Homo sapiens: one gene and its partners. The protein of the gene in region 3 purifies or fractionates together with the protein of the main gene of each other region. This does not show direct contact. Each region holds a gene or a part of one and is shown on either strand. Other genes may lie near its edges. The genes, in order: SNRPA1, SF3B6, SF3B2 and RBM17.

What was found.
Region 1: the proteins of SF3B2 (region 3) and SNRPA1 purify together in Homo sapiens (affinity purification with mass spectrometry; 7 studies listed by BioGRID and IntAct, with this or other methods). This does not show direct contact.
Region 2: the proteins of SF3B2 (region 3) and SF3B6 fractionate together in Homo sapiens (co-fractionation; 5 studies listed by BioGRID and IntAct, with this or other methods). This does not show direct contact.
Region 4: the proteins of SF3B2 (region 3) and RBM17 purify together in Homo sapiens (co-immunoprecipitation; 5 studies listed by BioGRID and IntAct, with this or other methods). This does not show direct contact.

Annotation. Positions count from the first base shown.
Region 1 is NC_000015.10:101,292,224-101,299,212, forward strand, and holds the start of SNRPA1 (U2 small nuclear ribonucleoprotein A'), read right to left. Parts: upstream 3,026-6,989; 5' UTR 2,956-3,025; coding exon 2,874-2,955; intron 950-2,873; coding exon 802-949; intron 1-801. UniProt on the Homo sapiens protein: Involved in pre-mRNA splicing as component of the spliceosome. Associated with sn-RNP U2, where it contributes to the binding of stem loop IV of U2 snRNA.
Region 2 is NC_000002.12:24,073,300-24,081,235, forward strand, and holds the start of SF3B6 (splicing factor 3B subunit 6), read right to left. Parts: upstream 3,028-7,936; 5' UTR 2,931-3,027; coding exon 2,901-2,930; intron 896-2,900; coding exon 777-895; intron 1-776. Other genes in the region: TP53I3 (quinone oxidoreductase PIG3), read right to left, coding at 4,280-4,462, 6,145-6,341, 7,520-7,732.
Region 3 is NC_000011.10:66,047,820-66,055,371, reverse strand, and holds the start of SF3B2 (splicing factor 3B subunit 2), read right to left. Parts: upstream 3,009-7,552; 5' UTR 2,988-3,008; coding exon 2,855-2,987; intron 2,700-2,854; coding exon 2,653-2,699; intron 2,346-2,652; coding exon 2,268-2,345; intron 2,229-2,267; exon of another isoform or gene 2,144-2,228; intron 297-2,143; coding exon 57-296; intron 1-56. UniProt on the Homo sapiens protein: Component of the 17S U2 SnRNP complex of the spliceosome, a large ribonucleoprotein complex that removes introns from transcribed pre-mRNAs.
Region 4 is NC_000010.11:6,113,014-6,117,954, forward strand, and holds the end of RBM17 (splicing factor 45), read left to right. Parts: intron 1-494; coding exon 495-568; intron 569-1,035; coding exon 1,036-1,134; intron 1,135-2,225; coding exon 2,226-2,298; intron 2,299-2,439; coding exon 2,440-2,543; 3' UTR 2,544-4,434; downstream 4,435-4,941. UniProt on the Homo sapiens protein: Splice factor that binds to the single-stranded 3'AG at the exon/intron border and promotes its utilization in the second catalytic step. Involved in the regulation of alternative splicing and the utilization of cryptic splice sites.

The DNA of each region.
Region 1 (6,989 bases), on a different chromosome or scaffold from region 3:
TTTAGACACTGCCTGGGGCTAATTCCACTGTCATACCATCTAGTGGAACCTGAGAAAAGGTGCAACTCCTGGGTGGCACAAACTACTTAACTCACTTCATGATTTTTTGTGCAGGCAGCACAGAAATACAAATAATTCTGGATTCCCAGCTCAGGTACAAGACACAACAACTATACTATAGGGGAATGGTTAACCTATGAGAAATATTTCTATCTGAAGGAAATCCCACTCACCACCCAGTACCTTTAAAGACATTATCTATACACCAAGTGCTTTTTTTCCAATAAAGTTTACACAGAGCTGATGAAGGCAGGGTCAAAAAAGATCTCAATTTCAATAAGTAACAGTCTAGAAATTAGTTGCAGTTAAAAAAAAAAAAAAGCAGAGACGCTCAGTCAAAAGTATAATTGTTACCTTTATATATCCTTTTACTATGACCCCTTTGATAATTGTTTTAGAAGCCAAAATGTATACAAAGCAACATGTTTTTATTTAGAAACTTAACCATGAAAATAAAAATACATGATTTCTGAACAGATACAAGTAAGACTAGACTAATGCCAGGTTAATCTCTGGATCTCTATAGGAAAAGTGAAGTTCATTTCTCATTTTAAGAAAAAACATGTATTGAATGTGGCTTCCATTATGGAAAAAATATTTTTTCAAAATATAAATAAAAAAGAAAAAGAAAAAGAAAAAGAAACATGTAGGTTTAACCAGTAGCACGTGCTACAACTTCTTCAGGAAACACTGCAACATTTACTCTAGGGGAAAAAATTACTTTCCCCTACAGACACGTACCATATTCTGTTGTTGTTCACTAACAATGTTTTCAGTCTTCTCAACAAAGGAAAACCATCCAGTTTCCTGATCTCATTGTCAGAAAAATCAATAGCATCAAACTGGTCTAACGTAGCACCTAGATTTTCAATGACGGGAATTTTATACCCTATAAAATGGAGGAAAAAAACACAAGAGGTATTAATATAACTAAACAGTTGCCCCTTAAAGCATTAGCTGTATTTCATAGTATCTGACTCCAGGCTTTGATTTATTCAGGAAGTATTACCTAGCACCTATGTCGGGTCACGCATGACTTGCCGCTGTTTAAGATACTAGAGAGAAAACGCTGAACGAGTCTCAAGTCCCCAGTGCCATGAAGCTTAGAATCTGATGACAACAAGGACAAGGACAATAACAATGGCTGATATAGGCAGCTAACATTTATAAGAACATTTACAAGGTGCCTCACACTGTCCTAAGTCGTTTGGGCTAGTTAAGCGGAATCGGCACAACAGGAGTTTACACTTGGAGCTGCTTAGTCTCAGTGCCCAAACGGCGTTCAAACATTGTGGACGACAGTTCTCCACTCTTGCATCTCCACAGGCCAGATTCTTAGAACCCATCAGAACAGCCTCAACATATCACGACAGTTCTCCCTCCCCTCCCCCAGCTCCAATTCAGAATTGAAGATCAATGGTTTAAATACAGTAATAAATCTGTGAACACTCAAATGTTAATTTGTCTAATTTGGGCATAATTATTGTGTTAGGCACTATAAGAAAAGAAATATTCCGAAGAAGCAAGGTCTACTAAAAAAAGAACTTACCCAAAGTTAAAGGACACAATTCAGAGCTGTACTACACGTACTGCATCAAAATACGTATTCTCAACACTGCACATGCTCCATAAAGAGAAATGGCAGAGATCATCAAAAGTGGTGAGTTGGGCCGGGCGCAGTGGCTCAAGCCTGTAATCCCAGCACTTCGGGAGACCAAGGCGGGCGGATCACCTGAGGTCGGGAGTTCGAGACCAGCCTGACCAACATGGAGAAACCATGTCTTTACTAAAAATACAAAAAATTAGCCGGGCGTGGTGGCGCATGCCTGTATTCCCAGCTACTCGGGAGGCTTGAGACACAGGAATCACCTGAACCGGGGAGGCGGCGGTTGCAGTGAGCCGAGATCACGCCACTGCGCTCCAGCTGGGGCGGAAAGAGCGAGACTCCATCTCAACACAACACAACACAAAACAGTGGGATTTCCCAAAGGTCGGCAAGAAATCTAAGCAGATCCCGCAGCGATGCTGCTCCGAGGCCATAGGTCCCCATGGGAACAAATCTCAGGCTACGACAGCATGGTCTTATCCTCAGAGAAGTTGCTCTATCACGTCCCTTTTAAAGCCGTCTCCTGAAATGCCAACTAGCTAGCTGCCCTCCCAGTATCTTACCAAGTCTTGCTAAGGTTGAAATAGTACAGGAATCTGAATAATTGCGAGCGCTTCCACAACTTACACACAGCACCCGGCGGTGCAAGCCTGGGTGACACAGTTCAATTTTTAAAACGTCTTCATATAGGGGAAACGCCAGACAATTAAAGCTACTAAGTAGAAAATACTGGAGGAAACAATCGCGGTTGTTCGGGGACTTAGTTTCCTCCCTCACATTAGGAATAATGAACACATATCCTATCTACGCTCAAAATATCATCTGGCGGCAAGTATTAAGAACCAATCCCGCGCCCTGCACTTGCGTTACAACCATTAATGAGCCGCTCTTCCGGGCCCTCAAACAGCCAGCGGCGAAACAGCCAAGCAAGGCCTAACAGGGCCCCACGAGGACGCACCAGGAAGTAATGAAGTCACCCGTGCCTGTCAAGAGGCACGGCGCTAACAGAAGGCTCCCAGGAGCTTAACCGGATGCTCATCTGGCAACAACGGCAAGAATCAGGCCCGGCGTTCCCTGCGCAGCCCGGTCGGAGCCCAGACAACCGGCCCGCGGGCCAAGCTCCGGCCTTCGGTGCACGCGGCAAAGCGCGGAAAATAAGGCGGCTCGGTGCCGCCTGGGGACTGGCCGCCCACGCCCCCGGACTCACCCCGGAGGTCCAGCTCCCGGTCGCGCACCGCGTTGGTGTACTGCGCCGCCTGCTCGATCAGCTCCGCCGTCAGCTTGACCATCCTGCAGCCTCCCGTTCCCCCGCGCTGTGGAAAGCCCGTGGCCTCCCGCCAGCGAGACGTCCCAGCGTGCCCCGCGCCCCGCCGCCAGGCAGCACCAATCGCAGCCGCCGAGTGCGCGCGCAGCTCGACCGCCAGGCCGAAGCAATCGAAGAGCCACGCCTCCGGGGGCGTTCTTGCCGGAAGTCGTGGCGCGCGCACAGGGGATGTGTCTCGTTCTGGGTTGTTTCCTAGGGTGTGTTTCGGAGTCTGGAGGACCCCTGATTCCAGACGTTGGTGTTTAAAAGTTAAGGCGAATGTGGAAACACCCGAGGGGAACTTTCTCATGCATTAGCGCACCTCGAGGTGGGAGGGGAAGCGGTGACTGTCCTCCCTCCACCAGCCGTCGCGGGAACCCGTGGGGTTCAGTGAAGGGTCCAGCAGTTCAGGTGCCCGCCCCGGGCCTGGGCCTTGGCTCCGGGCTACAGTGTGAGATCCCGGGCTAGGTGGCCCGCCTGGGGCAGGTCGCCGGGACAACCCCACCGCCCCGCAAGTCCAGCCCGGCCTCGGGCACGGTAGGGTTTGCGGTTAAGCTTGTGACCTTTAGACTTCTGAATATTCATATGTATGAAATGTGATATACATAAAAGTGTGCATATCAGGAATTTACAGTGATTAATGACCAGAGTGAACACAGCTGCGTAGCCGACACCGGGATCCAAAACACCGCTATTCTGAAAGCCTCCCTCTTTCCCAAAAGGCAACCGCGAACTCAACACTACAAATTCGGTTTGCTTGCTTTTGCTATAAATAGAATCATGCAGTATGCTTTTTTTTTTGGCCTAGTTTCATGGAGTCTATATTATGTCTGGAGTCCATCCAGGTTGCATACAGAGATGGTTTGTTTGCTTTTGCTGCTGAAGAGAATTCCATTGTATATATTATACCATAAATTACTTATTCTGCTGTTGATAGACATCAAAGTTGTTTTCAGTTAGGGCTATTCTGAGTAATGCTACTATGAATTTTCTGGTACGTGGTTCTGATGCACGTTTGCATGAGTTTGTCCTGGAGTGGGACTGCTGGGACATAGGGTATATCTATCATCAATAAGTAATGCCCAACAGTTATGCTAAGAGGCTGAAATAATATACACACTCCAGCGGTGTGTAAGGGTTTTCATGGCTTCCAGCTTCAGCCTTCTTGGCATTTTAACTCTATAACTTCAGCTATTCTGATGGGTGTGTGGTGGTATTGCACTACTGCTTTGCTTTGCTTTTCTCTAATAACTAATGAAGCTGAGAACCTTCTCATGTGTATGGTGCCCATTCTGATAGCTTCCTTGGTTAAGTGTTCTTTCGAGTCCCTGGCTCATTTTTTTTTTTTCCTTATGGAGTTGTCTGCCTTTTTTCTTATTGATTTGTGGAATTTCTTTATATATTAGGGATATGAACACACTCTGTGGCTTGCCTTTTCACTCTTAATGGTGTTGATGATTAGATTTTTTTTTTTTTTTTTTTTTTTTTTTTTTAGACAGGGTCTCACTCTGTCACCTAGGCCGGAGTGCAGTGGTGCCATCAGGACTCACTGCAGCCTTGACCTCTCAGGCTCAAGAGATCCTCCCACCTCAGCCTCCCAAATAGCCGGGACTATAGGCACAGGTCAACAGGCCTGGCTAACTTTTGTATTTTTTGTAGAGACAAGGTTTTGATATGTGGCCCAGGCTGGTCTCCAACTCCTGAGCTCAAGTGATCCACCTGCCTCAGACTCCCACAGTGCTGGGATTACAGGCGTGAGCCGCCTCGCCTGGCTGAGAAGTTTCCAAGTTTTATGTAGTTCAATTATTTTCTTTAGGTTAGTGGATTGGGTGTGTGTGCATGTGCATGTGCCTTAGGAAATCTTCCCTTACCCCCATCATATTTTCCTATGTGGTCTACTAGACGATTGTTTTGCTTTTCACATTTAGTTCTGCAATCCACCCGGAGATGATTCTCCTTGAACTTTTATTGAAGTATGATATACATATAGAAGAATGCAAACTGAACACACCCAACCAACTAGCATCCTCGTAAGAACAGGACATTGCCACATTCCAGAAGCCCTCCTCCTGTCTTCATCTAGTCACCACCCTTGCCCCAAGGGTAACCATTATCCTGCCATCTTGTATAGATTTGCTTTATCTAGTTTTGTATTTATGCAAATGAAGTACCTTGCATATTTTTTGCTAAACATTATGTTTGTGTGTAGATGTAGTTAATCTATTCTCACTGTAATATGGTATTTCATTGTGGATGTTTTACAATTTACTTATCCATTCTGCTGTTGATGAACATTTGGGTAATTTTCACTCTTTTATATTATAAATAGTGTACCTACAAACTCAATAATATATATCTTTATGTGAACACATATACTGATATACTCCCAGGGATGGAATTACTGGGTCATAGGGCTTACTTATGTTCAGCTTAAGTAGGACATAGTTTTCCAAAGTGGTTGCCAACTTAAACTCCTTGCTAACGTTTAGTATTGTCTTTTTAATCTTAGCCATTCTGGTAGATAGGTAATGGTATGAAATTGTGGTTTTAACTGTATTTCCCTAATTACTAACACAATTGAGAACTTTAAAAAATATATTTATGTTTGTTTGGATAACCTCTTTAATGAAGTGTCTGCTTAGGTGTTTTGCCCATTTTTCTATTGGGCTTTATTTTTAAACTGATTTGTAGGAGCTCTTTATATTTTTTCAATAGGAACCTTGTGAGCTATGTCTGTAGTGAGTATCTTCCCCCTGTGGCTTGGGTTTTCACTCTCTTAATGGTATCTTTTGATGAATAGAGGTTCTTCATTTTAATACAGTCTGATTTATGAACCGTTCCCTATACAGCTAATAGTTTTCGAGTACGCTGTGAGAAACTTTTGCCTACTCCAAAATTATATTTTCTTCTAAAAGCTTTCTTCTTCCACCTTGTCCATTTAGATCTGCAGTCTCTCTGGCCTAGATTTTTGTGCATAGTCTAAGGTAGGGAAGAAGATATATTTTTCCCCATATGGATATTTGGTGGACCCAGCACCATTTATTGAAAAGACCATCTTCTCCCCCACTGCTCTGCAGAGCAGCTCTTTTCAAAAATCAAGTGTCCAAATATGTGAGGGCCTCTGCTTCTGAACTAGCTGTTCTTTTCCATGGGTTTAGTCAGCTATCCTTGCAGAATACAAGCTTTAGAAAAAGACTTGGTATTTGTCCCTCAAAAAAAGCTCCCATTTTTTTCTCAGATTATCTAGTAGTTATCTGATTATTCTAATCCTTTGCATGTGAACATAAATTATAGATATATGTGAAAAAGCACCCATGATTTGATTTGTAGTGTGTTGGATCTGTAGAAGAATTTGGAGAGAATTAATATCTTTACAATATGAAGTATTCCAATCAATGGGCATATTATAGCCCTACATTTATTGAGGCACTCTTTAATTTCAGCAGCATCCTGCAGATTTTGTGTCAAGGCCTTGTATATCCTTTACTAGATTGTCTAGATATTTGATAGATTTTGATGCTACTGTAAATAGTACCTTTTGTTTAAAAACTCCATTTTCTAATCATTAGTTTGATATATTTAAATACAGCAGATTTTTGTATATTGGCGTTACATCCAGCGATCTTGTGAAATTTACTTAAGTTTATCTGTAACCATTCTTGTGGATTTTCTACATACATAACCATGCTATTTGAGAATAATGATAGTTGGCTGGGCGTGGTGGCTCACGCCTGTAATCCCAGCACTATGGGAGGCTGAGGTGGGTGGGTCACCTGAGGTCAGGAGTTTGAGACCAGCCTGGCCAACATGGTGAAACCCCGCCTCTACTAAAAATACAAAAATTAGCCGGGTGTGGTGGCACGTACCTGTAATCCCAGCTACTTGGGAGGCTGAGGCACGAGAATCACTTGAATCAGGGAGGCGGAGGTTGCAGTGAGTGAAGATCATGCCATTGCACTCCAGCCTGGGCAACAGAGTGAGACTCGGTCTCAAAAAAAAAAAAAAAAAAAAAAAAAAAAG
Region 2 (7,936 bases), on a different chromosome or scaffold from region 3:
CTTAAGTCACTAGCCCTTTCATATGAGTTCGGGTGTCAGAGGCTATGGTACTGTGTAATGTAGAGGTTCAATTTAGAGTCAGAAGATTTTACCACTAAGCACTGTAAGATAGAAAGGTACTTTACTCTCAGGGCTATAGTTTTGTTGATCCAAATAAAAGCACTTATTATGGTTAATGGTATTCAGTAGATGTCCAGTAAATATCACTTGAAGGTATGAACCCCAATCTTTATATTAAATTAAAACGTGAATGCTTGTAATTAGATGTTTTCCTCTATACTTTTACATCTTCAATTGAAAGAGCTGTAGTTGAAAATATCATTTTTTTCTGTTACTTTTATACTCTTTTACTTAGTTTATTCAGAAATTCTGGGGTTATTTAAAGAGACAGTGATGATTGTTGAGAAAATTATAGAGCTGCTGCATACAAAAAACACAGTGTAACAAGCTAGCTTTACAAATAACAGGTATGCAATAAATGTTAGTTCTTTCCCTTCTCAACCAGTTTCCTCAAAGCATTCATTACTACTTCAATGAATGCTTTGAGGAAACTCAAATCCTCTTCTTGGCTCTCATTGAGCTGGATCATTAGGGTCTCAGTAGGTTTTCTCCCCCCTTCAAAAAGATCTCATCTCTCTGATCTCAATCTGCTAGTCTCAAGGCTCTTGGTAAGGGTTGTCGCACTGCACACAGCACAGGGTGGCCTCATCGTCAGCTATAATTCTGAAATTACAGATTATGCTATCATTTTCTTTAAATGACTCAGTAAGACTCACACTCTGATTTGACGAATAGGTCCATATTTCCCAAATATATCATACATTTCTTCAGCTGTGATTTTGTATGGCAAATTTCTTATATACAATATCCGATTTACTTCAGGTGGAAGTCGAATCTAAAATGAGAAATACGTATTGTTATTATAATTAGGGGCATTCTAAAAAATTATAATTTAAATGCCCCTATAATTAGGGGCATTTTAAAAAATTCTTAATGATACGTAATAATAAAAAGCCAAGAATAAGAGGTATAATTTGATGTTTCTGAAAATGGGCAGATCTTTGAAAAAGCAACAGAGGCTGGGTGCAGTGGCTGGTCCCTATAATCCCAGCACTTTGGGAGGCAAAGTGGGAGGATCACTTGAGCCCAGGAGTTTGAGACCAGCCTGGACAACATAGTGAGACCCCCATCTCTACAAAAATTTTAAAAAATTAGCCAGGCATGGTGGTGGGTGTAGGCCTTTGCAAACCTTACCACCATCACTCCTGCTAACACCTGAGTTGGGCTGTACCCTCTTCCCTGCCCATCCCAGGAGATGACCCTGATTCTTGTTTCTTGGAGAAAATAGACATGACCAATTGAAATACTTTTCATCTATATCCAACTACTTTCCCTCTATTACTACGCCAACCTTCATCTACTCAAAACCTTCACTTCTAAACTCAACCTATCTTTCTTCCATATCATGTTTCGCACACTCTGCTGGATTGCTCCCATTGGCATAAAGATACACCTATATCACACATCTTTTAAAAAGTCAACTATCTGGCCGGGTGCGGTGGCTCATGCCTGTAATCCCAGCGTTTTGGGAGGCCAAGGCAGGTGGATCACTTGAGGTCAGGAGTTTGAGACCAGCCTGGCCAACACGGAGAAACCCTGTCTCTACTAAAAATACAAAAATTAGCCGGGCATGGTGGTGGGCACCTGTAATCCCAGCTACTCAAGAGGCTGAGGCAGGAGAATTGCTTGAACTCAGGAGACAGAGGTTGCAGTGAGCCAAGACTGTGCCACTGCACTCCAGCCTGGGTGACAGAGTGAGAGTCCATCTCAAAAAAAAAAGTCAACTATCATCCAATTTCCCTACTTCCTATTTAAATGAGAACTCATGGACAGAGTGTCTTTGCTGTTTCCATTTTCTCAACTTCCACCATCTTTTCACCCCACTGCAATCAAGTTTTCATCCACTGAAATGATTCCTATCATCAAGGTCACCAAAAGTCTCCATTTACATATACAATGGTCAATTGCTTGTCTTTTCTTTCTTTCTTTCTTTCTTTCTGTTTTTTTTTTTTTTTTTGAGTCAGGGTCTTGCTCTGTCTCCTGGGCTGAAGTGCTGCGCAGTGGCACAATCATGGCTCAAGGCAGCCTTGAATTCCTGGGCTCAAGCAATCCTCCCACCTCAGCCTCCAAAAGTGCGGGGATTACAGGCATGAGCCACCTCACTCGGCCTAACTTCATCTTACACCTCTAAGCGTTTTACTGTTGACTAATCTCTTTTTTGAGTTTTTTTTTTTTAAAAGTTTCCGTAACACTGTACTCTCAAACACTAGAATGTAAGCAGAAGGACTTGTTTTATTCACTGCTGTATTCCCAATACGTAAGACTAGTGTCTGGCACATAGTAGCTATTCAATAAATATAATTGATGAATTATGTCCCACATGGCAAGCAGAATACATAGTAGGTGCTCAAAAAATATTGTTTTAATTAATGTGTTAATGAAGGATCCGAAAAGCACCATGATCTGAGGGGAATCCCAGGTCCTAGTTGTTGGTGAACCATTAAGTTAGTTGAGGACTCTTCTGAGATATCGACTTTAAGTCAAGGAGATAATCCTAACGCCAGGTCCTTAGGTGCGGGTCAAGCAAAGAGGCTATAGGGGTAACACTATCACTGACACTAGGGTAGAGACTGAGGAACTCTCAAAAGGGGTGGGGACAGAAATGTGGCTCAAGGAGCATATCTCTGAGGATGGGGCCGGATAGTGTCTTCGCTGACAGGATAGGAATTCTGGAGTTCTCCGCTCTGGGGACGGAGGAGGAGCAAGAATGCTCCGATCCACGCCGCTAAGAAAGTCAAACCCGAAGTTCTCCCACCCTCCGCAGAACACCCGATACTCACGTTCGCCCTCTTGGCCGCTTGCATCGCCATCTTGGCGGGCTGATGAAGTTACCGTAGCAGATACTGAAATTCCTCCGGAGCTCGCTCGGCTTCGGGGGTTACACCGCGTTAGATGCAGGACATCAACATCCAGGACCCGCCGGAAGCTGTTACAGCGGAATAGCGCCGTCTTACGCTGAGACGCGCTGACGTAGCAGCCCCCTTCGAATAGACTCCGGGGTAAAACCGAGCCTGAGCGAGACTCGAGGCCGGAAGATGGAAAGGCGAGAGTCCAAGACACTTCCGGGCTCTGTACCGTAAAGGGCGGGGCGTAGCCTCCAAAAGGCGAGATGTTCCGGTCGGGGAGGCCCTGAGCAGAGGAACCCGGGTGGAGAGGGCGGGGCCTGAGGAGGGCGGAGAGCTGGGGCGGGTCTCAGGTGAGTAACTGGGGAGCGGAGGAGGCGGGGCTTGAGCAGGGTTATGACAGGTAGGGCGGGACCCAGGTGAGTAGCGGGAGGGGGCGGGGCCTGAGGAGGGTGCGGAGAGCTGGGGTGGGGCCCAAGTGAGTATCCGGGAGGGAGCCGGGCCTGAGCAAGGCGGTGAGCTGGGGCGGGACCCAAGTGAGTAATGGAAGGGGCGGGGCCTGAGGAGGGTGGTGGCGGTGGGGCGGGGCCCAGATGTGTAGCGGGAGGTGGTGGGGCCTGAGGAGGGTGGCGAGAGGTGGGGTGGGGCCCAGGTGAGTAGCGGGCGAAGGCGGGGCCTGAGGAGGACTGAGCTGGGGCGGGACCCAGGTGAGTAGCGGAAGGGATCGGGGCCTGAGGAGGGTGGTGGAGGTGCGGCGGGGCCCAGAAGTGTAGCAGGAGGTGGTTGGGGCTGAGGAAAGTGGTGGAGGTGGGGCGGGGCTCAGATGTGTAGCGGGAGGTGGTGGGGCCTGAGGAGGGCGGCGAGAGGTGGGGTGGGGCCCAGGTGAGTAGCGGGCAGGGCTGGGGCCTGCTGTGGTGCCCACTGGTTGCGGGGCGCGCGGGCAGGTGCCGGAGGTGGTGGGCCTGGGCCTCTAGCTGTGCGCAAGGCGGAATATGTGGGGTTCTGGCGGCTTGTGTCACGGCTGACGCTGTAACTATACCCAGAATCTCCGTCCCTGGAGGGGCCCTCAGGTTGAGCGTCAGCTGATCGGGCCTCAGTAATCCCCGCTGCGACGCCCGTCCGGACTCCCACCTCAACCCCGCCGCGGCGGCCCCAGTCCGCGTGCCACCCTTCCAGTTCACTCTTTATTTCCTCATATCAGCTTTAAACGGCTCTGGAGGAAGCACCGGGTTTCTTGGCCTGTCTATTGTGAATCTTCTCCAGGTTTGCTCTGGAAAGGCCTGGGGTGGCCGCGTCCTGTCCTGCCCCATCCTCCTTCACTGGGGCAGTTCCAGGACGATCTTGCCTATGTTCTTGTTGGCCTCCATGTACTTATGGGCCTCCTGGATTTCGGTCACTGGGTAGATTCTGTCCAGAACCGGCAGCAGACGTTGGGGGCCCTCCGTGGAGAAGTGAGGCAGAATTTGCTCCGTGAAAGCATTCACCAGCATTTGCTTGTACTAAGACAAGGGAAAGGAGATCATCAGCCTGGGGAGAGAGCCTCACCCTGCCCTCCTCATCCTCCTCAGCCTTCTTGCTCTCTCTGAAGCCACGTATCTGAAAAAGCACACAGGGACACTTAACCCCTCACTTCCTAGCATGTGTGTGAAATACCCTTGAAGGAGTCATGTGCCATCTCAGAATATGTCCGATAGGTATATTGTTAATTTTGAGGTGAAAGCATTGGAGAAATTGTAGTTTCAGAAAAGGCTAGCTGACCTGTCTCTTCTTGCATGTAGCAAGTCATAAAGATTCCTCTGAGAGGGGTACCCTCCCCATACTAGGGCAAAAAGCCCTTATCACCAGAGACTGGAAACGGGGCTGCAATGGAACTGAATAAATACACTTAAGGAAGTAACCCTTATCTTCCACTAGTTTTACACCCCCCACCCCCATATATCTCCTAGTGACTTCCCTAGAAATTTACTATCCCTAGCCAGATTTTGTCTTATTTCTTCTCAAATTTATTGTTCTTTGTCTAAAAATTACAAAAGCATCTTACTTTGGCCGAATCACTTGAGCCTGGGAGTTTGAGATCAGCCTGGGCAACATGGTGAAAACCTGTCTCTATAAAAAATACAAGCCAGGCATGGTGGTATGCCTTCAGTCTTAGCTACCCAGGAGGCTGATTGTGCCATTGCACTCCAGCCTGGGTGACAGAGTAAGACCCTGTCTCCATAAAAAAAAAAAAAAAAAAAAAAAGTACATGCTTTTCTCCTGTCAATCTGCTGGTATCAATTTGGTTTCTAGAGCCAGCTGAAGAGACCACATAGGAGCTAAAGGGGGGTTACAGGTGATCTCTGGCTCCCTTGTACCTCCAAATGTGTAACTTCTGTTCTGTACCAGATAAAGACTGAAGCCTGGAGTAAAATGTTAGTGTCACTGACAGCCTAAGAATTGTTTTTAAATAAAGTGTCTTTACCCAGGAGGCAGCCACAGATAGGACTCATATAGGCTTAGTGAAAAAAGGATGCTTAAGCTCTCCTGTCCCTCAGCTGGTGCAAAACCCTATGGTGGAAACATTCCCAAAGGTGGTACCTGCTAGACTGCCAGATGGAATATTTCAGGAGCATATAATCTTTTTTTTTTTGAGATGAGGTTTTGCTATGTTGCTCAGGCTGGGGTACAGTGGCTATGCACAGGTGCAATCATAGCTCACTGCAGCCTTGAAACTCCTGGACTCAAGCAATCCTCTGCCTCAGCCTTCCAAGTAGCTGGGACTACAAGCAAGTGCCACTGTGCCCGGCATGGAACCTATAATCTGTTGAAGGCCAAGGCTTACTTATTTTTTTACTCACCTAAGAGACTTTCTAGCACACTGAGATGAATTCTGCCTTTGAAAACAAAGTCTTGGAACTACTCGAAATACTTCCTAATATAGTCAGTGCTTTCTTCATTCTGTTAGAATGTTCAGATAACCTGTGAAGTATCAGCTACACTTCTTTTCATGATACTGAAGCTTCTATCAACCAATCTGAATCAGTTCTCTGAAATCGGGTTCCCTCTTTATCTTCAGAGGGGGAGGTTTCTTCATAGAAACTAACCTCCGTAATCTAAGGTAGAGCTTCCTTTCTCGGGGTAATGTAAATGAACCACACTTTTCTGGGTTAAATCACATGTTTTCTTTTCATTCATCACTCACCTTATTGTCCCTAGACCTCAGCAAACTGGTGATCAGACTTCCTCGCTTAAAAAGTAGCTTTGAAAACAGGGGCCCATTGATGTCACCTCCTCCCATCAGACCATAGAGAACCCATCGACCATCAAGAGCCAGGCAGTTGACGTTCTTCTCCCAGTAGGATCCGCCTATGCAGTCTAGAATAAGATTAACTCCAGCACCTTCCATAGGAAACAGATTTGTGATGCTAGTCAGCTTGGTGCTAAATAAGATACCATGGTATATTTGGGGATTATGGATATAAATACAGATGCAAGTGGTAAATCTATAGGTTGGAATTAGAAACACTGCTTGAAGAACTGTTGTAAATGGAGTTTAGATAGCAGAACTCTATGATAGCATGTATGAAGTTCACCATTTATGAGGCCTAGCTACAGCAAGAGGGAAATGGGGCACCATGACCTAGCGTCTCCTGTCATGCCAAAATAAGTACAGTCCCACTGACACCCAGGCACGATTGAGAACAGAATACAGGAGGCCCAACCTAGGCTAGTTGTTCACATAGAAGTTAGGAAGTGTCCGCACTAGGTTATTGGAATCATAGGCTTTCTAGCTTTGGTTTCATCTCTCCTTTTCTACTCACATAAAAAATGGAGGCCAGGCATGGTGGCTCATGCCTGTAATCCCAGTACTTTGGGAGGCTGAGGCAGGTGGATCACCTGAGGTCAGGAGTTCGAGACCAGCCTGGCCAACATAGTGAAAGCCCGTCTCTACTAAAAATACAAAAATTAGCTGGGCGTGGTGGTGCGCCTGTGATCTCAGCTACTCAGGAGGCTAAGGCTGGAGAATCACTTGAACCTGGGAGGCGGAGGTTGCAGCGAGCCGAGATCAAGCCACTGCACGCCATCCTCAGTGACAGAGTGAGACTCCATCTCAAAAAAAAAAAAGAAAGAGAAACGGAAAGGGATGAGCCAAAAATAGACACGTCTGGCTTTGGAATACAGAGGTGTGCACATCTACTTACTCATTTAGGGTGCTACCACCCAACCCTACCATGGCTGGCTCCAAACTGGTCTCTGCCTCCAAGCCTCCTGTTAACTAAGTGTGGAATGGCTGGTTGGGAAGAAAAGGTGCTGGATAATTCCAGACCAAGTCTGCATGGTCTAAAGTGTGGATGAATCTTATCTCTTGCAAGAATGCACATGGAAACCATCTTAGATTTAAATATGACTGCCTGTCTCCAGTGGTCAAATACCATAGTACTAGAATTTGGCCAGGGCAGCTGTTGTGCACTTAGCAGAGGTAAGACTGATACACAGCACTGGCAACTTTGAGACTGGTGGGGCTTTTATTTAATCATCTCTTAAATTCCTGCTGAACTGTAGAAGCAGTTGTTTACCTTTGGTGAATTTCAGCGTTGCTTCAGAGAAATCCTCTTTTTTGTAATTGAATCCAGCAGCTGCTCCAAGCTTTTCTGCCATTTGAAGCTTCTTCTGGGAGCCAGCTGTGACCAGAGGAATAGCTCCAGCCATCCGGGTGAGTTGGATAGCAGCTGTGCCCACACCACTCAGTCCTGCATGGATTAGCACATAGTCTCCAGCCTGAACATTTCCTGTGACAGAAAGTACAGGGTTCTCTTTACTTTGCAACTGCTACACATTCCCCACACAGGCATATTCTATCAAGATCACCTGGCCGTTGCACCAAATGCCAAATCAATCTTTTGCTTTTCCTTTTTTATTTGGTGGGGTGGGGGTGGGCTGGTGGGGGTGGGACGCTGTGACTCAAATACAAACCATCTTGTTCTTTGGAGAAA
Region 3 (7,552 bases):
CCACTGCCCCTTCAGGGACCTAATGAGTCCAAGGCCAGGGCTGCCACCTGCCCTACCTGCTTGGCACGCTCCTCCTGCTGCATCAGCAATGCCGCCTGCTGCTGAGCCAACTTCAGCCGCTCCTCCTCTGACAGTGCCACTGGCTCACCCACACGGAGAGGAGGCGGGGGCCCCAAATTTGGTGGGTGGGCCATAGGAAAGCCAAGGCCAAGGCCTGGTGGAGGTGGTGGGGGTGGCGGAGGAGGCTGCAGAGGGGGGAGTCCCAAAGGTGGTGGTGGCATGGGAATTCCAGGGAGCTGTGGAGAAAATATGATCATAAAACTAGGAAGCATTTATCTACTCATTCTGCAAATATCTGGGGGATCTACTTTGAGTCAGGAGCTGGAATTCTAAGTCAAATGATACATAGTTACCACTCCATAAGAGAGAATGCTCCACAGCTCTATAAAGATATGAGAATGTTAACTTCTGGCACCAACCAAAGGAAGCTATCCACTCTCTCCAAAAAGATATCCTGAATATAGATTCTGCATACAATTCTAGGAGACTCAAAGACGCCTCTGAGGCCATCTAGGGACTCCTCATCCTACACACAGAGATCAGTAGATGCCAGGTCAGAGCCACTGCTTTAGAGAAAATGAGGCAAATCCTGGATCAGAAGGAACATGGAAATTGAGAGGACTTACATAAACAGGAACCACTGTATCTGGGCAATGCAAACCCCAATGACTACTAAACGCAAGGGGTGTGAAATCAAATCAGGGAGCCCTCGATGTCACACAAAAGAACATGGGAACTGTGCCTGGGGCAGGCAAAGAAAAGGGTGATTGCTTCCAGCTGGGTAAGGACAAGTCAGTCTTCCTTGTATTCAAGCTGTATTTTTTTTTTTTTTTTGAGACAAGAGTCTCGCTCTGTCACCCAGGCTGGAGTGCAATGGCGCAATCTCAGCTCACTGCAACCTCCGCTTTCCAGGTTCAAGCAATTCTCGTGCCTCAGCCTCCCAAGTAGCTGGGATTACAGGCACCTGCCACCATGCCCGGCTAATTTTTATATTTTTAGTAGAGACAAGGTTTCACCATGTTGGCCAGGTTGGTCTTGAACTCGTGACCTCAAGTGATCGCCCACCTCAGCCTCCCAAAGTGCTGGGATTACAGGCATGAGCCACCATGCCCTGCCTCTTTTTTTTTTTTTTGAGACAGTCTCGCTCTATTGCCCAGGCTGGAGTGCAGGGGCTTGATCTTGGCTCACTGCACCGTCCACCTCCAGGGTTCAAGTGATTCTCCTGCCTCAGCCTCCCAAGTAGCTGGGATTACAGACATGTGCTACCACGCCCAGCTAATTTTTGTATTTTTAGTAGAGAGAGTTTCGCCATGTTGGCCAGGCTAGTTTCAAACTCCTGACCGCAGGCGATCCACCTGCCTTGGCCTCTCAAAGTGCTGGGATTACAGACATGAGCCACCACGCCCTGCCTCTTTTTTTTTTTTCCTATTTTTTGGTTTAATTTTATTTTATTGTAAGTTTTCGGGTACATGTGCAGTATGCGCAGGTTTGTTACATAGGTAAATGTGTGCTATGGTGGTTTGCTGCACCTATCAACCCACTGCCTAAGTATTAAGCCTGGCATGCATTAGCTATTTTTTCTGACACTCTCCCAGCCCCTCCCCCATCACCTCCCCCCTTTTTTTTTTAAAGAAGCAAAGTCTCATTCTGTCACCCAGGATGGAGTACATGGAGTACAGTGGCGCAACCAGAGCTCACTGCAGCCTCCAACCCCAGGGCTCCAGCAATCCTTGAGCCTCTTTATAGGGACTTTATAGGCGCGTGCCACCGTGCCCAGCTAATTTTTAAAATTTTTTGTAGTAACAGAGTCTCACTATGTTGCCCAGGCTGGTCTCGAACTCCTGGCTTCAAGCGATCGTCCCATCTAAGCATCCCGAAGTGGTGGGATTACAGGCATGCGCCACTGCACCCGGCCACAAGCTGCTTTTGGAGAAGCAGACAGTGGAAAAGGAGGCAAGTGTCAGCATCAAAGAGAGAACTGAAGAGCTCACAATTCTGTCATGGCAGTACCTCCCTGCCCAACAACTGCAAGTGAGAGGAAGGGCTACCCTGAACATATGGAATCTTTTTTTTTCCCCACTCAGGTCAGGCGAGTAATGTGCAAGGGTGTCACATCTCACACATGCACGTGAACACCCAATCATCATGCTCATGAACTACAAAAGGATCAGCAGATGGAATCTTAAAAAACAGAAGAATCTCCCTACCTGTGCCGACATGGGAGGTGGAGCGGCTTTGTCCCCATCTTCCCCTCTCAAAACCGGCCGATTCAGCACGATGCCAGTCTGCAAAAGAGAAAGGACTCTAGGTCAGTCCAAAACTAGCTGTTTCACTAAACGACGTTCGCTCCCAATTCATTCAACAAAACGTACCCAGTGCCTGTCTGCCAGCGCTCTGGCTGGGCACTGAAGAGGACCAAGATGGATACAAGAAATTACAACTAAGCTGGCAAAGGCAAGAACAAGCTAAAAAGGGCAAGCCTCCGCCTTGCTGTGCCGAGATAAAGAAAGAATGAAGACCGAGCCGTGATGGGGTATATAAGGTCTCCTGGAGAAGCTCGGCCTATCCTGACGTCCCGCCGCCAACACCTACCTGGCGGGTGTAGCTCTGCAGCCGCTCCACCAGCTCCTCGCGATTACCTGCAGGGCAAAGTACACGATCAATGGGGCAGGCCAGCCCGGCCAGGTCAGGCCCCAGCGGCCTGCCTCCGCCCCTCGCACCCGAGTCTCCCGGGTAACCAGGCTCCGCTTCTCCGCAGGCCCGTAAAGGCCCCTCGACTTCCTGTGTTCCTCACCCTGGATCGGAGCTCCGATCTCTGCCAACTTGGCCTGAAGCTCCTGGGCAGCCCAGGCGCCATAGTGGCCTGGAGGTGGCGGCGGCGGCAGCTGCAATTCTGCTTTGGGAGGCTCGGGATGCTCCGTCGCCATCTTAGCCGCAGGAAGGCGCGCGACCAACCCGGAAGCTGGGGCCAGCCTCAGGGCCCACTTGCCGGAACTTCCGGTGGCGCCGTATGCCACGTCCTCTCTGGTTGGGAGGCGACGCGCACTCAGGCACACCCGCTGCCGTGCGCTGGGCGACGGGATTCGCCGCAGACGCACCTTTCTCTAGTGGCCCCTCGGCGGTCTGGTCGCGAGGCCTCCTGGGAGTTGTAGTGCGCAGGTCTCGGTCTCTGCGGGCCCTGCGCGCCGCTACGGCCCCGAAGGCCGGCGGCGGGCCGGAGGGCGGGGCTGCGAGGAGGGCTGGCACTTCCCCGAGGGAGTGTTTTCTGCGCCTCACCTGCGGGAGCGAAGGCTCTCAAGCTTTCCGGCCCGGCCCTCCGGTCAGATCCTCGAACGCTTACGCTCCCAGGGAGTCCCGAGAGACTCATTTCCCCGGCGGCCCCGCGTTGCGGGCGCCAAGCGGGAGGCTGGAGCCGATGCCTGGGATAAAACAGTGTCTGATTGTCTGCCCGCCCACCCCCGGCCCAGGCCCGGATGAATGGGCTGAAAGGGGATCCAAGCCGGGAGAGCAGCAGGCCTGCCCGGGCTGAGCTCCAGCTGCCGACCTGGGGGAAGGGCGACTCTAAAGCCCCCTTTTCCACCTTCCAGGCCGGCTCAAATGTCGTCTTCTCCACTAAGCCTCCTCCCGCTTTCCTTTCCTTTCTTAGAGCTCCCATAATACGTTCGAATCTCCACCGTTTGTTAAGTCTTTCTTGCCCTTTCTTCCTACCTCTATCCCAAAAATGTGAGCAGGGACTTGATCATTTTCAGTCTCGCATCGCCTGGCGTTCAAGAGGCGCCCAATAAATGATTACTGGAAAAAAAGGAACAATGTTTCTGGTGAAAGCATTTGTGTCTTTTTTAGTCTCAAAAATAAACTCAGGCCCTTTTCCCTCAGCCGCACCTGCACTGGGGGCCCCACCTTGCCTCCCACTCCCCACCCCAACTCCCCTTGGCCTTTGGAGACAGAGGCAGAGACTGGCAGGGATTCTTGCCTGCCTAGCATCCACCTCTCCCTGTCCCACACCATCAATTCAGTTTCTCTCCCCACCTCTGCCACTAGCTCTGCCCTCTCACCAACAGCTAGCCTGTGTGTGTTTTTTATGTGTGTTGAGAAAGGGAGTGGGGAGACTCAAGTGAAATGGTCTCATTTTCCCCCTACACATCCCCTTCAGATCTTTTCTCCAGCTCCATTTTGCCAACTGCCCCCAGTGGAGAAGAAGCTGGGAACAGGGAAAAAAAAAGAATGGGGCACCAGGTCGGGGGAAGGTGAGGTTTGGGAGAGACAGGGAAAAGGACTGGGTTGAGAAAGGTTGGCTCACATCCTAGCACTGGGTGGGAAGTCCTCTTCCTCCTACCCAAACCTTGACCTTTCCCCTTTCCATCAATATCACTATGGGAGGCTCCTGCAGCCACACTCCCAGAGGAGAAGCCAAACCCGGAAAGGACAGTAACGAAGACAGAAAAACAGCGCCCTTCCCTCCAGCTTGTCAGCCCACTCAGGCAGAACCTTTCTAGCCCAAAGGAAGGCTCTTCTGCTCCCTGTAACTGGAGAGCCCAGGGCAGGTCATCTGAGGCTGAGGGCCCCAAGGCATGTGTAGGTGCTAGGGAAGGGGGCGGGGTCTCTGAGGCAGGATAAACTAAAGGCTGATGGAGTCTCATTTTATTTATTTATTTTTTATTTATTTATTTATTTTTTTTTTTTTTTGAGACAGAGTCTCAGTTGCCCAGGCTGGAGTGCAGTGGCTCTATCTGCGCTCACTGCAAGCTCCGCCTCCTGGGTTCACGCCATTCTCCTGCCTCAGCCTCCCGAGTAGCTGCGACTACAGGCGCCCGCCACCACGCCCAGCTAATTTATTTGTATTTTTTTTAGTAGAGACGGGGTTTCACCGCGTTAGCCAGGATGGTCTCGATCTCCTGACCTCGTGATCCGCCCGCCTCAGCCTCCCAAAGTGCTGGGATTACAGGCGTGAGCCACTGCACCCGGCCTGGAGTCTCATTTTATAACAGCCCTGGGAAGGAGGCAAGGTCTCAAGATCCTCCTCCCCCACGATATTGTACACAGCGGAAGATTGATGGGCAGAGAAGGTGACATGCCCAAGAGGCCAAACTGGGGCCACCAGCAGTCCTTCTGACTCTGAGAGTCCCTATTTCCTCCTCCTCAACCATAACAAGGACCCTCACACTATTTCCTATGTGGGCCTAGAAGGGCGTATCCAGCCCCTTCCAGTCCCACCTTTGGGTGGCTACCCAGCTCCAGGATCCTTGCTTTACCAGGCCCAGAGCAAAATAGAAAGCAGGTGTGCAGGCCAGCCACAGAACTCAGTGTAGGGCTCTTGATGTCTGGCATGGCTTTGGGAGGTGCTGCTGCCCAGCTCCCAGGTGATGGGAGCTGAGGACTAAGAAGTTCACATGGAGCCTTCGTGTGTATTATCTCTGCTACCTCAGAACAGCTTCCCATTTTACAGCTGGAAGCAATAGGGCTTAGGGAGTTGCCTCTTGACTCTGGGATTTAAGAGCAAACCAGGATTGAACTTGGGTTCTTTGATGCCTGGTGGCAGGTGCCTAGGCAGGGGTCCCAGCCTCACTATAGCTCTGGTCAGGAGTGAGTGGGTCTGGAGTCCTAGTGAGGAAAAATGGGTGAGCAGCCAGAAGCTACATCAGAGGGTATGGGGGACACGCTGGAAGGGAAGGGGGCATGTGGGCAGAGATGGGACCAGACAAGGCTGGAGCACTGCTTCTCTACTGGAGGAGGACAGAGGATGTGAGTACCTGCACGTGTACCAGCATCTGGCTCACCCAGAAGCCCACGTATGACCGGCGGTGCCCCAGAATACCCAGCAATGCAGGAGTATCCAGACACCTTCCCGGCCTCAGTTTCCCTGCCTGAGTGAGAGAAGGGAGCTGGCCACATTAGTGTCCAACTCTGCAAGGTTGCCAGAGTAAGACAACTGCATCTGAAGATGCCACCCAGAGACTGTTCACGGCAGCCAGCGGGCAAGCCAGGGAACCACCCCCCCTCCCCCGTCCCCCTTCCTTTCCCCTCTCTCCCCTCTCCCCTACTTGCTCGTGGCCTGGCCCCGCCCCTCGCCTTCCTCCGGTGTGCGATGGGGGGCGGGGGGCGGGGGGCGGGCAGAGCCGGGAGGAGCGAGCCTAGCGGACGCTGCCACCTGATCCCATCCAGGCGCTGAGAGGCAAGCCACCGGCACTCGGCGCGCAGGGCCCCGGGCACCCTCGGACCCCGTGCGGATTTCGAGACAAGGGTCCAGAGATAGCGGCGGCCGCCCCCAACCCGGGCCAGAGGCAGAGCCCAGGCGTGCGGTGTGAGTACTGCAGTGGCCGGCATGGGGTTGGAGGGGTGGGAGTGGACCAGACCGGGATGGGGGCCGAGAGGCGGGCGGGAGAGTGTCTTGGGGGCCTAGTGGTTGGAAAGCATGAGGAGGGGGGCGCTCTACCCCTGGAAAGTGGGAGAAGATAGGGTGAGCGGGCCAATCTGGCCTATCCCCTATGGTGATCAGATCCCACTGGCAGGATCCCTGGGGGATGCTGGGATGAAATTGAGGGAGTGGGAGGTATGGTGCGGGTGGGCAGTAATGGAGACAGGAGGATGGAGGGAATTCCAAGGCAGGGATGATGCGGGGGTGGATGAGAGAGAGAGGAGGCTGGGGGGCCAGGGGCAGACCTGGTGCAGGCTGGGGGGTGGGGGAGGAGGAAAAAGAGGGAGGTGGAAAGATTTGCTCTCCCAGGCCAGTACTTTGCAGACCCCCTCAGCCCTTCGCCCCTCCTCTGGAGCACCCTGGGTCAGCGTCCCTCAACACTGGGCTGTCCCATCCCTCAAGTCAGGACAGGATGGAGTCTCCGGGCCATCCAGCAGTCAGGTCCAAGTGGTCCAGTCCAGGGCACCCCTTCCTCTAAGTGCATCGGTTTCAGCTCTAGAGCTCAGAGGAGACAGAGGAGAAAGGGCTCCTTTAGGAGGGTGGGCACCCCGGCCCATTTTCAAAGCTTTGGTCGGCTCTACTATTTCTTTGGTTCCCTGGAGAAAAGCTAGCAATTTGCAAAACTGGGCAGCAGCGTGAGGTAGATTGTTCTGACTAAAATTAGCACTGACATTCTGATGAGCCTGGGCGTCCTGACCTGCCTGGGATAGCTGGGAGAACTCTCTCTATGGAGAAGACACCAGGCACAATGGGGAGTCGTGTGAAGCATCTGAGGGCAGGAGCCAGGGCCACTGCTCTAAAGCACAGCTCCAGCAGCACCATCATGCACCCCACACCAGCCAGAAAATCCGATGGAAACCCAGCCCAGTGGCCCCCTCCCTGAGAGGCACTGCCTTGGCCCCATCTCCAAAACAGGCATCTTGGAGTCAAATTGCCAAGGGAAGGCAGGCCTCCCACAGTGTCCGAGCAGCACCCTCTCTCAGGACCTGGAATGTTTAGCCTGGCCGAGTGCCCACCCAGAGGAGACAGGGTTACTGCTTCCAAATACCTGAAGGTCTGTCATGGAGAAAAATGTTC
Region 4 (4,941 bases), on a different chromosome or scaffold from region 3:
ACTTTTCTGGCAGCCCCGTTCATGCACAGCTTAGGATACATCACGAGCCTGACAGGTGAGTGCCAGAAACCAACAGTTGTCCCGACTTGTGAGGTTATCTGAAGTAAGGCAGCCGGTGGCTGGATTAGTAACTGCATATTCCCCTGGGCCCGTGACCTTGAACGTTTGCTCCAAGTCAACTCACCTATAGGAATTATCACTCACATGCCCTGTCAGCCCTTTGGGAAGTGAGATGAGCAAAAATTGCAAGTAATGGTGGAGGCTCAAAACATCCAGATGCTATTGTAAAAACATGCCAAAGCAAAGCAGAGGCTTTTATTGCAGATAAGGCTGTGTTTTCGCTCAGAGACCAATTGTGTAGATGCCTAGGACATAAATGGTGGGGATCGCTATTGAAATTAAATTAATTATTGTAAGTAGGACTCAGTTCTGTAACACATCTAATGATATGCTGCTCAGTTCTGTAACACATCTAATGGTATGTTTTGATACAGATGCATCCAAGAAGTCAGATTCAAATCCGCTGACTGAAATACTTAAGTGTCCTACTAAAGTGGTCTTACTAAGGGTAAGAAGCTGAGGAAAGCAAGCTCTCTGCCTGCCTAGATTTGTGTGTGTCACCCCAGCCTACCCTGCTCCCCCTAAAAGTTAAAACTGAAAATGATACTTTTGCAAATAATACTTTGGGCAGATCCCACGTAAGGCTGATTTTAGATTTTTCACTAATGTGTAAGTCTCTTTGCTAAGTACAGTGTTTAAGACTGCAGTGAGTAATTAAATATTTGAAATTGCTAGAGCTTCAGATAGTTTATACATTTTGGTGCTTGCATAGATGCTTTTGTAACTCTTTACAGGCTTAATATATGTTTTAGTGTTTTAAGAAATACTAACTTTTGGGTACTTTGGGGATGAAATTTTTCATTATGTCGTTTGGGATTGAGAACATTTACCATCACTAAGTCATATTTATATACCTCTGCTAGGTGTTTGTAAGTTATACTTGGTACTTGAATTTGTTTATTTTTGTGTTTAAAGAACATGGTTGGTGCGGGAGAGGTGGATGAAGACTTGGAAGTTGAAACCAAGGAAGAATGTGAAAAATATGGCAAAGTTGGAAAATGTGTGATATTTGAAGTAAGAGTGTTTTCTTTTGATGTTTATAACACAAGTTGTAATTGGCACATTACAAAACATTTTCTACAAACAGGACAGGGTATGCTATAAGTAACATTCTTACTGCAGAAGGTGACAGGCGTTGGTTATTTGTACTTCTCTTGCTCAATTATTACAGTTTTAAACATAAAGACAATGATTTCAAGTTTTATTTGATGAAGAAACAGGAATGCTTCATGATTGAGGATCAGTATGATGACTGAAGACCTTGATTCTAGCGTGCTCAGTAGTTTAGTTCCTTAGACATGCCTTTGGTTTCAGTCATTTGGTGAGTATTTAGTGCCTCTCACATGCACTGCACTGTGCGGAGAGCACTTGGATTACAGGAAGCATGCTCTGTACTCTCAGTGGTGTGTTCAGTTGAAGAAACACATAAAATAACTGAAAGATATTCAGTTACTAGACTAGGTAGTATTGACTAAGTTCAGGAGTTGAGAAAAGGATTAGATCAGTGAAAAAATAGACTGCCTTGTGAGCAATAGCAGATATGGGCTGCGCTTTGAAACGAACAGGTGGGATTTGCAGGGAAGGGTATTCTGATTGGGATAATGGCTCGTAGGAGACAGTGAAGATCAGGACTACCAAAATGGAATGGATGGGCCTGTTGGGGATTAGCAGAAGTGCTTAGGTGGGTGGAATTACAGAGGGCTAGGAAAGCTAGACAGAGCTAGTCAAAATGAGACCTGATGTGAAAGGCCACTAGGGCACCAGCCTTTTTAATCTGAAAGCTCTGCTTCCTCTGTTTCTTTATCCTGTTGCTGTTTGTTGACCACATAATTATTTGTTTACGTCATCAGCTGGCACAGGGCCTTTATGAGGTCAGAGACTGCCTAGCCCTGTGTTCCTGGCACCTAACAATGCCTGTCATAAAAACAGGCATTCAGTACGTTTTTGATGATGAACAAATTATACTTATTTCCTTGGTATTTGACAACTACTTGACTGTATATGATGATAATTAGAATATCCACTCTGAGAAATCATTTAAAAGAGAAAACTCATTCAATGCAATCTCAAATGCCTTTACTCATCACGCTCTCATTTTCTTCCAGATTCCTGGTGCCCCTGATGATGAAGCAGTACGGATATTTTTAGAATTTGAGAGAGTTGAATCAGCAATTAAAGGTTAGTGGTACAGCTAAATATTAAAGAATAAAAAAGTTGAATTTACAGCCTTAATCTTTACAAGTAAAGTTACTGTTTAATTAAAGTTAAACCTTTATCTTATAGGATACCTGTATTAACTGTCTTTTGTTTGCCTTTCAGCGGTTGTTGACTTGAATGGGAGGTATTTTGGTGGACGGGTGGTAAAAGCATGTTTCTACAATTTGGACAAATTCAGGGTCTTGGATTTGGCAGAACAAGTTTGATTTTAAGAACTAGAGCACGAGTCATCTCCGGTGATCCTTAAATGAACTGCAGGCTGAGAAAAGAAGGAAAAAGGTCACAGCCTCCATGGCTGTTGCATACCAAGACTCTTGGAAGGACTTCTAAGATATATGTTGATTGATCCCTTTTTTATTTTGTGGTTTTTTAATATAGTATAAAAATCCTTTTAAAAAAACAACAATCTGTGTGCCTCTCTGGTTGTTTCTCTTTTTTATTATTACTCCTGAGTTGATGACATTTTTTGTTAGATTTCATGGTAATTCTCAAGTGCTTCAATGATGCAGCATTTCTTGCACTAAAAAAAAAAAAAAAAAAAAAACTAGAAAGTTTTGGGACATGGGGTTATATTAAATTATTCTTTGTTTTTCTTTTTCTTTTAATAAAGCCTGCAAGTTACTAAATTGTAGTTTCATAAATTCTGTAGTAAAGTATCATCTTGGCAGTGTGCCAAAGGTGAAAATGATGCTTTCTCTAACAGAGAAATTCTTAGTGACTCCAGTCGTAGAAAAACGTCTTTACAACCTGAATAAGATTGAAGAATTGTGAACATACCATGGCCTATTGGATGAATCATTTGCCGTAGGCTAAATCAGACTGTAGGGTTTGTGATGGATTTATGGAGTATGTGGGTATAGAAATCATGAATCTAGCATTTGTTTTCAGAGATTCAAGCATAGTCTTAAGGGTAGATCAGAAATGACAAATGAATTCAAAACCTAGCAGGTGCATTGTAAATGTGTGCCCAGTTATGTTTTGGAAATGGCAGTTCCTTGGGGTCATGTTTCTACTGGCAAAATTTGCAATAGTGTTCTATTGTATGTAATTTTAAAATTTATAAGATTATCCACGTTGGCCAAGTAAACTGTACTGCCAATAGAATTCTGGAATTGTGAGAAATTGTATCATTGAAGTTCAGTAGGATGTGTGGCTTAAAAATTTATCAGGACCACAAAAAAGAAAACAAAAATATTTGGTACTGAGGTTCATTGCCAGGGCAGGAGGTATTTCCAGAAAATACTCATGCCTGTGTTCTGTTCCTTGCTTTCCCAAATACTGCATGTGACTTTCCTAAGCGGCAGCTGAAAGACTCGAGCCCGTGCTGTCTCCTTTGGTTATTATGACATGAAAGTGTATCAAGAACTCAGCATTTCTTTGCATCCATGGACTTGGTTTGGAGACATAAGGAATATTCTGACCCTTTTTAAAAAAGGATTTTCTCATGTTTTTATTTAACATAAATAAAAGAATAACATTTTATCTTTTGTGGTATTATTTTATTGAATAAAATTGAGTTTTATGATAAAAGTGCACCTGTTCTGTAAAGTAAGTTGGGGTTAAGGAATGTGAGGTAAATTACATAATTGAACATTGTGGAAGACAGAATCAAAAGCAGCCCTGGAACTTCAGTTATCTATGGAATTAGGCATACCATTCCTCAAGTGGAAACCATGTTTGTGCTTACAAGTACCGGAGTGTGCTTGTTTAATTTTAGAAACTAATGGTTCCAACCCACCTTTCATGCATGCATTTATTGTTGTTATGCTTTGTAAAACATTGTTTGCACCTAAATGGGTGGCTTTTCCTAACATTCTCATGGTCAGCAACCAGAGAGTTGCAACCAACTCATACTACTTGATTTCCGTTCGCATGAGGACAGCTTGGTGTGTGCCTTTCTCCCCAGTCTTTTATTTTTAAAATAACTGTGTTAATCAGTTAGTGCTTTATTTATAATGAATTTCTGATAGTCGAATAATTTCTAAATCTCCTGCAAGTTAGTACTTGAGAAATTTGAAATTAATTTTCAATATTAACATTTAAGCTAATATAAAAATTTTAAATTTCAATAAAAATTAAAAATTATGTAAGCTACAATGTAACTGGCAAGTTTCCGTGTAATAGACGTTTGTCATTCTTGGTGGCCCATCTGTGAGTTTTTGAAACCCCTTTTTCTTTTTTTTTCTTTTTTTTTTGAGACGGAGTCTTGCTCTGTCGCCCAGGCTGGAGTGCAGTGGCATGATCTGGGCTCACTGCAACCTCCGCCTTCTGGGTTCACGCCATTCTTCTGCCTCAGCCTCCCAAGTAGCTGGGACTACAGGCGCCCGCCACCACGCCCGGCTAATTTTTTGTATTTTTAATAGAGACGGGGTTTCTCCGTGTTAGCCAGGATGGTCTTGATCTCCTGACCCGTGATCCGCCTCAGCCTCCCCAAGTGCTGGGATTACAGGTGTGAGCCACCGAGCCCAGCCTGAAACGCCTTTTTCTGTGTGGGGAACTTCCTTGTTTCCCTCCTCCCCGCAAGAGACTAGAAACTTGCTTTCCCAGCCTGTCTTGCAGGTTGAGTAGGGTTGTGCGCTTGGGATCTCTGATCAGACCGGCACC